Homo sapiens: one gene and its partner. The protein of the gene in region 2 purifies or fractionates together with the protein of the main gene of each other region. This does not show direct contact. Each region holds a gene or a part of one and is shown on either strand. Other genes may lie near its edges.

Region 1 (3,486 bases), on a different chromosome or scaffold from region 2:
AACAAGTAAGAATGTAGTAAAGTACTCATTGCAGAGCCTAGTAGTCACTTGGGTAGTTATTAATAAACAGCTGTAAGATGATAGTCACACTCTTAACAGTAAATAAGATTATTTATTGGATTCTCCCACATTCAACCTCCACCTCCTGATTAGAACAGGAGAAAAACCTGAGGCCACAAGAAATGATCAAGAAACAAAAGGCTGCGGCAGTTATCACTGCAGTTCCTATGAACTGGTTTAAATCAGCAATGAGGTATTTGTATTTTGTATTGCATTACTCCCATTAAGTTAAACCTCAATTAACTAGAACCTTTGTTCCAAAATGGTGTTGACAGCCAGGCGTGGTGGCTCACGCCTGTAATCAATCCCAGCACTCTGGGAGGCCAAGGCAGCTGAGGTCAGGAGTTCGAGACCAGCCTGGCCAACATAGTGAAACCCCATCTCTACTAAAAATACAAAAATTAGCTGGGCGTGGTGGTGGGCACCTGTAATCCCAGCTACTCTGGAGGCTGAGGCCGCATAATAGCTTGAATCCAGGAGGTGGAGGATGCAGTGAGCCGAGATTGCACCACTGCCCTCCAGCCTTGGCAACAGAGCGAGGCTTCATCTCAAAAAACAAACAAAAAACAAATCAAAATTCTGTTTATATTCACTTTTAGAAGAAAAAGGCAAATGACATAAAAGAGTTTTTTTTATATATATATATATTTATTTATTTTTAAAAACTCCAGGGGATGTCCCAAAGTTAGTAAACAGTTCTGTTTCTTGTCCCTTTTATGGCTGCATGCAGTTTCAATTGTTCAGTACAACAGATGAGGCATTTAAAAGGTCTCCAACGTCAAGAAACACTAACTCATCTCTGGCATATCATATTTTTTAAGGCAGAAGTATTTTCTGTAATGGTTACTACAGAGTGTTTACTGGTTAATTTTTAGTTAACCAGAACCACACATCCCATAGATAATTCCATTTAACTGAGGTTTATATCCGTAAGAGCATTACCATAGAAAAATTTCCCTTTAGCAATTTCAAGAGACCTCAGCCACCAATATACCTACCTTCTTTACAATATAAAGTGAAATATTACTTTAGATGAAAATTTTTTGTATCTTACTTAGAAAAAATTAAGTTGATATTTAAAAGAATTTTGATTTTTAATCACCTTCCACAACGATTTGATATACCTTAAACTCCACTTTCATTTTTTATAAGAGAATCACTTTCAAGGGAAAAAAATGGATGTTACTATATTTTAAAATCTGCTTTATAAAAAAGTGTATAAATATCAATCTGCCAGATATACTTCCTATCCCCAACACAGCTGTAACACTGACTAATGGGGTCATGACCATGAAGCAAATTTTACTTCCTAAATAGAAATGTGTAGGTGGCAGAAAGCGTATTTTTCAGCAGGAGTGATTCTGTTGGATCTCTTTACAATGTCAGAGCAGTTGTTAGAAATGTTAGTATTTTATTCGGTTTCTTGCTGTGAAGGATTATCACAATGTTGAAGTGATGGCTGTTCACCCAGTCGTCATCACCGTCATCATCTCAATCTTGGGAATCATCAGCAGTGTCCCCCACACAGAGAGACAGGTATAGTGGTGCAGTTTAGTGACAGGGAATCCAGTCTTAGATCCTGTTTATATCACATTTTTGTGAATTTACACAAAATTCCATTTATAGCTTTAAAACTGTACTACATAACACATTACTATACTACTACAAAATATCCTTCTCTATAAATGCACTGAATATTTTCTTGGGCATTTTATTAGGCCTTTTTTAGCATTATTACAAATGCTAACAACAAGATACTTCAAACCACCAAATATAAAGTCAGCTTCTTAATTTTCTGAAATTTAGTTATTTGAGTTAATAAGAATTCTGTAGGAATACTGACCCATCTCTTTTCATCCAACCTTCAAAATAGTTAAGCCTATTTGCCCATCTCACCTAACCTTCAAAATAGTTAAAACAAAAACAAACCCAAACTAGCTATATATAACAAGAATCTTTCAATTCCCAAACTATTGAAAGACCCTAAGTCAGCCAATCTATGAAATTATACAAGATGAAGGTGAAAAAGCTGTGCTTTTTTTTAAACCATTAAACCCAGTTCTTTTCTCTTAAAGTTGTAAGAAAATGGAAAATCTGTTTTTAAATCATGCAAAGATTTAAATAAGCATTTTTCTATCTGCTCTAAGAAACTGTTTCTTATCTTACAATTTTAAATATTCATAACACTCAAACTACTTTTTTGTGGCCATTTATGTTTTTGACACTAGATTGTATGGTATTATTTAGCCAAGATGTATTATAATGCTAAATTATGTATAAAATATGATTTCTGGAATTTGTCCATCTTCTATTGAAGTGCCATTATTATTGCCAGGGGAACTAAAAAAGAAAAAAACAGTCTTGCTTGCAGCAGGTGTCTCATGCACTACTTTCTTCAATCCTTTTGTGCCATAGTGGGAATCTGGACCCTAAATGAGAACAAAAGGTTCCTTAGTAATTTTCATTTAATAAGCACTCAGTTTAATGTGGTGTTTTAATTAGATTAATGTTCCATTATATTTCACTATCATTCCTATATAAAATTTTATGCTGTCATTTAGAGAAAAATGAAGTTTTTACCAAAAAACTAATTAATGAATAAAAATACTGAATGTACAGCCCAGCTATTAGAGAATAGTGAAAAGATTTTACAAAAATAACTTTTATTTTCTGCCAAACATTCAACTGCTTACTGAAACAAAGGGCTACTTCTTAAGAAGAGCTATTTCTTTCAGAACAGAGCTGTGGGGAGAAGTACTTCTTTTCGGAAGGCAGTGGAATATTTTAGCTCCCAGCTTCTTTTCCCCCCTCTTTATAAATGGCTCAGCTGTCAGTGACTCTCAGCTTCTAAAACACACATTCTGCAACATTCAAGAGGAAACCATCTGGAACATAGTGCATGACTCTTACTTTGAGTGTTGCACATGCTGTGTAGCACACATTGGGCAGGATCTCTATGGGTTCCTTGAACATGACCCTGAATGTGTTAGCTGTCCCATCACAACTAAAGCCGGTATCATTCTGTCCCAGGGTTTGCTTTTTCTCATATTCAATGATCTGTAATTTTTAAGAGACAAGTTACATTTAAGTTAAACCAAATAAAGCAAACTATAGAAAATAATATAAAGCCCTTAGCAATGTGTGCGTGTGTGTTTTGAGACAGACTCTCACTCTGTTGCCTAGCCTTGGGGGTGGGGGGGTGGGGGGTGGTGTGTGTGTGTGTGTGTTTGAGACAGACTCTCTCACTCTGTTGGTGGGTGTGTGTGTGTGTGTGTTTTTGAGACAGACTCTCTCACTCTGTTGCCTAGCCTGGGGTGCAGTGTTGGGGTCTCGGCTCACTGAAACCTCCACTTCCCAAGCTGAAGCAATTTTCGTGCCTCAGCCTCCTGAGTAGCTGGGATTACAGATGTGCGCGACCACACCTGG
Region 2 (4,532 bases):
CCATTCCCCAGAGGTTCCTGCTTCCCTTCTCTTCCAGAAGCTCCTCCCAAATCCCCCAGACTCCAGAGTCTGCCCCTGACCAGGCAGCGAATGAGGCAGGCCCGGCTCTAATCGAACATAAATTTCTAAAACCACATCTGAGTATGTAAGATGTAACCATTGGGGGAAACTGGGTGAAGGGCACACGAGCCCCCTCTGTACCATTTTTTGTAACTTCCTGTCAACCCATAATCAATTCAAAATAAAAAGTTAATAACACACATCTGACTCTGTTGTGATTTAATTGCTTTTTCTTCAGTGCACCAGAACTCCTGCTCTTGGAATCCTGGCAGCCTGCCTCATCTGGCCATCTTCCTGAGCTACCCTTAGCAGTCAGTAAGCTCTTCTGTCCCATGTGCCCCATGATGGAGGTGATGTGGGGTAAAACTTAGTTCTGGGCTGGGTGTTGAAAATAGACTCTCCCCTTACCCCAGCTCTGGAACAAATTTGTAATAGAAGTCAGGCAACCTTAGCTGGCTTCTACTCCTCCACCCAAAAAACCTGAATTGCAACAGATGAGGAAGGTGGAGGGACAGGGAAGGATCTAATATGTGATATAGTCATAGTCCATCACGTGAGGAATTGCTACACCCTTTTGAGGGGTGGGGGTGGAGAGGTGGATATCAGTAATGTGTGAACACAAGTAGTAGATACTTTTACCTCCACATCTGGTTCATCTCTTTACTCCAAATATATTCTTCCATCCTGTTCTTGGAAGCAGCTGTTGAGGAGGAATGCTAACTGATGGCTGGTAGGCATAAGGCTAAGCAGAGCGAAGGGTGTGTGGTGGAGAACCCACCCTCCTGTGCTGCCTCTTCTCCCTCTCTCTACACTAGTAGGCTCATCTGTCCCTCACAGACAGAGATTTTGGCTGCTGCACACACAGATGTTTATTGTTTTCCAAGCTCCCTGGTGTTAAACATGCAGGGTCAGGGGGCTAGCAGGCTGAGATGAAGCTCCTCTCTACTTGGTCTTCTTATCGTAGGTGCCAGAACCCTTGTAACCACTCACATAGCCTGTGTTGTCAGTCATCTCTTCCCGTCCCGCAATGCCCTTGCCCTTGCCACTCTCATCAAAGCGCTCCTTGTGGGTGCCGGTGTACTTGCTGGTGTCTGTCAAACGGTCCACTGCACCCACTGTTGTTGCTTTCTGCAAGCCAGGGATGGATTTGAGCTCTCTTCCTTTCCTTACGCTGTCATATCCCTTCCCCAAAGATGGCCCGAGATACTTAGAACAAGTGCTTGGAGCTCTTGCTCTGCCACTGGCATGGGGTGCTGCTTTCTTAGGGCCCAGATACAGCTGTGGGCAGGTACTCTGGTAAGAGCCGTTCACTCATGGGGGAGGAGGAGTGTGGTGTGGGAATGAGTGTGGCGTGTGCAGAGGGAGGGTAGGTTTTTTGTTTCCAGAGGAGTTATTCTGACTAGGCTGCTGCCTGAGGACTTCACTCCCACTCCCCGACTCAATATCCACTGTAGAAAGAGCTTTTAGTTCAGACAGGACAATTAAAAAAGGGAGTAGGTGAGAGGCAGGAGGCCTGAGATTAAACCCTAAATAAGAATTGGAAGAGGAGTGGGCATCAGGTACCAAATTCTCTACACTAATGTCCTCCAAAAGCTACCAAGCCCTAATTGCCTGGCTCAGATACTAGACACTTGGAAATTAGTCTAAATCTACTATTAAAATAGCCATGGACCTTGGGCAAGTCACTTCCCTTCTCTGGGCCACATTTTCCTGACTTCTGGAATGTCTAGATGATCTCTAAAGTCTGTTTCGGCCCTGTCTCTACAGTCACACAGTTGGCAGGGTTAGGGAGGGTAGACTGGAACAATGGGGATTTAGGGAAGTAGGGTCAAGGGGATGAAGGCTGTCACTCACAGTAGCGCCAGTGGTGGCTGGGTCTTTGCCCTCCATGAGTCCATAAATGTTCTCCAGGACTTCATCTGGACTCTTCCCTTTGAAGCGCTTCTGGCCCAGTTCCTTCACTGCCTCTTTGAACTGTTGAAACGTGATGGTTCGGGCGTTCTTGGCCCTGGTCAGTTAGACAGAAATCCAGAAACTTTGGAGCATGAATGCATTACCTTCCAAGGTCCAACTCTTGCCTCACTCAGATTTGGCCTCTTTTGTCCTATCAATCAGTGAGTGTCTCGAAGACAAAGGATAGCACAGCGCCAGGTACCCTGTGGTGCTTGGTAGGCCCACTGCAAATGTTCCACCACGTGAACCCTTCCGTGGCCAACTACCTCGCAGGTTCTTCTCACCCCCACCTCCATATTTTTGGCTCCTCACTTGACTTTGCTGAACACGATGTCCACGTCCGTGGAGGTGACTGTCTTGCCATCCATGATGCCACAGTCTTTGCACAGCTTGGAGAAGTTCTTGTTGTTCATTTCAGTGCCACTGCTTGATGATTCTCCAAACGCAGCAAACCGATGGAATGTTTTTTCTGCCTCTGATGCCATGGTCAGCTAGAGGTCGGGGAGGGCAGTCGTGGGAGACACTTGGGGGTGAAGGAGAAGGGGGAGGGAGGACTGTGGAGTAATGAGGATGAGTGTTATGGTAAAATCAGTCAGCAACAGGAACAGCTCCCCTCTTCCCTGTTGCTCTCTCCTTTCTCCCTCCCAGCTCCCATTGCACCTACGCAACTACAGCATGAGTCTCCCATTCCCAGCATTGGAGATACCAGTGTGGATCCTACCTACTGAATGATCCTCTCTTTCCCCTACCTCTTTTATGTACCTTAGAGTACCCGGATGGTGGTCTGACCCTTCCCGGCCTTTGTATTTAAGTGTGTGCAGATATGTGGGAGCCGGTTGGCTGTGGCAATGAGGAGACAGAGGGAGGAGAGGGAAGATTCTATGACCTCAGCAGTGGTTATGTGACATCACTTCTGGCCCCAGCTACAGCCATTGCCTTCAAAGGAGGGGGCTTTTGGTCTCCCTACCTTGCATGCCGAATTGAGCAAACTGCCAACTTTCTGACCTTTTCAGATGATCACATTTCCATCATTTCAGCCAAGCTTACCCATCCTCTGGGTCCTAGTCAAATTGCCTTATGCTCTGCCCCACAACAGAAGCTGAGGCGAGCCCAGGGAAGGTGTTGTAGTCTGTTTGGGCTGCTAGAACAAAATATCAAACTGGGTGGCTTATAAACAACAGACATTTATTTCTCAGAGCTCTGAAGGCTGAGAAGTCTAAGATCAAGGTGCTGGCAGATTCAGTGTTTGGTGAGGGCTGCTTTCCGGTCCATAGATGGCACCTTCTTGCTGTGTCCTCACATGGTAGAAGGGGTGAATGAGTTCCCTTGGGCCTATTTATAAGGGTATGAATCCCATTCAGAAAGGCTCTGCCCTCATAAAACTTAATCACCCCCCAAAATGCCCCATCTCCTAATACCATGACTTTGGGAGTTAGGATTTTATTTTATTTATTTGCGTATTTATTTTGAGATGGAGTCTCGCTGTCTGTTGCCCAGGCTGAAATGCAGTGGCATGATCCTGGGGCACTGCAACCTCCAGTCCCAGGATTCAAGCGACTCTCATGCCTCAGCCTCCCCAGTAGCTGGGATTAGCCCAGCCACTATGCCTGGCTAATTTTTGCATTTTTAGTAGAGACGGGGTTTTGCCATGTTGGCCAGGCTGGTTTCGAACTCCTGACCTCAAGTGATCCACCTGCCTCAGCCTCCCAAAGTGCTGGGATTACAGGTGTGACCCACTGCGTCCAGCCGGGAGTTAGGATTTTAATATATGAATCTGTGGACAACATAAACATTCAGACCACAGCAGTTAATGAAAACGGATTAATGAAAACAGGCTGTCATGTTTTCTAGTCTCCAGGCTCAAGTGTAGCATGGAGAATCCCACTGGCTTTAAAAGGCCAGTCGCAATAGAAACATTAAATAGCTTCCAGTGTTGGGCCCAGCAAGCCTTGGAGTATAACAGATGTGGACAGGTCAGGATAAAACTGGGATAGACTGAGGGTGAGGCTCAGATTCTGAAAATCTTCAGATAAGTTTCTATGCAGGTCAAAGATGTTCCTCAGGGTTTTCTCTCTTCGGCCTTTTCTCTGGCCAGAAGCACTACAGATAGATGAACCTCACGGATCCTAAAACAGAGCAACGAGACTGGTGACTTTCCTCCTTTTCCCATCTAATAATGCCACCACTTTCTATTTTTTTTCTTTGTCTTACAAATCTATGCCTTTCTTTCCATTCCTATTGCTTCCACCCTTATTCAAGTTCTTATCATCTCATAGTTGGATGACTACTCTGGTTTCTAAATGATCTCTTTTCTAAATCTAATTCTTCACTCCCACCCACCCATAATCCATCTCTATTACCTCCTCCCCATCAGATTAATTTTCACAAAACAGTATTTTTTATTACTCCTGCTCAAGAATATTCTGTGGCTCAAGATATACTATAGCTTCTCATTGCTAAATCTTTTTGCTTAGCATTCAAGGACCTATACAACTAACTAGGCCCCAATCTACCCTACC

What was found.
Region 1: the proteins of TPPP2 (region 2) and BTBD1 purify together in Homo sapiens (affinity purification with mass spectrometry; one large-scale study listed by BioGRID and IntAct). This does not show direct contact.

What each region holds. Positions count from the first base shown.
Region 1 is NC_000015.10:83,015,737-83,019,222, forward strand, and holds the end of BTBD1 (BTB/POZ domain-containing protein 1), read right to left. Parts: intron 3,118-3,486; coding exon 2,971-3,117; intron 2,490-2,970; coding exon 2,331-2,489; 3' UTR 687-2,330; downstream 1-686.
Region 2 is NC_000014.9:21,028,548-21,033,079, reverse strand, and holds TPPP2 (tubulin polymerization-promoting protein family member 2), read right to left. Parts: upstream 2,864-4,532; 5' UTR 2,776-2,863; intron 2,568-2,775; 5' UTR 2,499-2,567; coding exon 2,326-2,498; intron 2,069-2,325; coding exon 1,915-2,068; intron 1,189-1,914; coding exon 1,003-1,188; 3' UTR 761-1,002; coding exon of another isoform or gene 713-760; 3' UTR 265-712; downstream 1-264. UniProt on the Homo sapiens protein: Probable regulator of microtubule dynamics required for sperm motility. In contrast to other members of the family, has no microtubule bundling activity.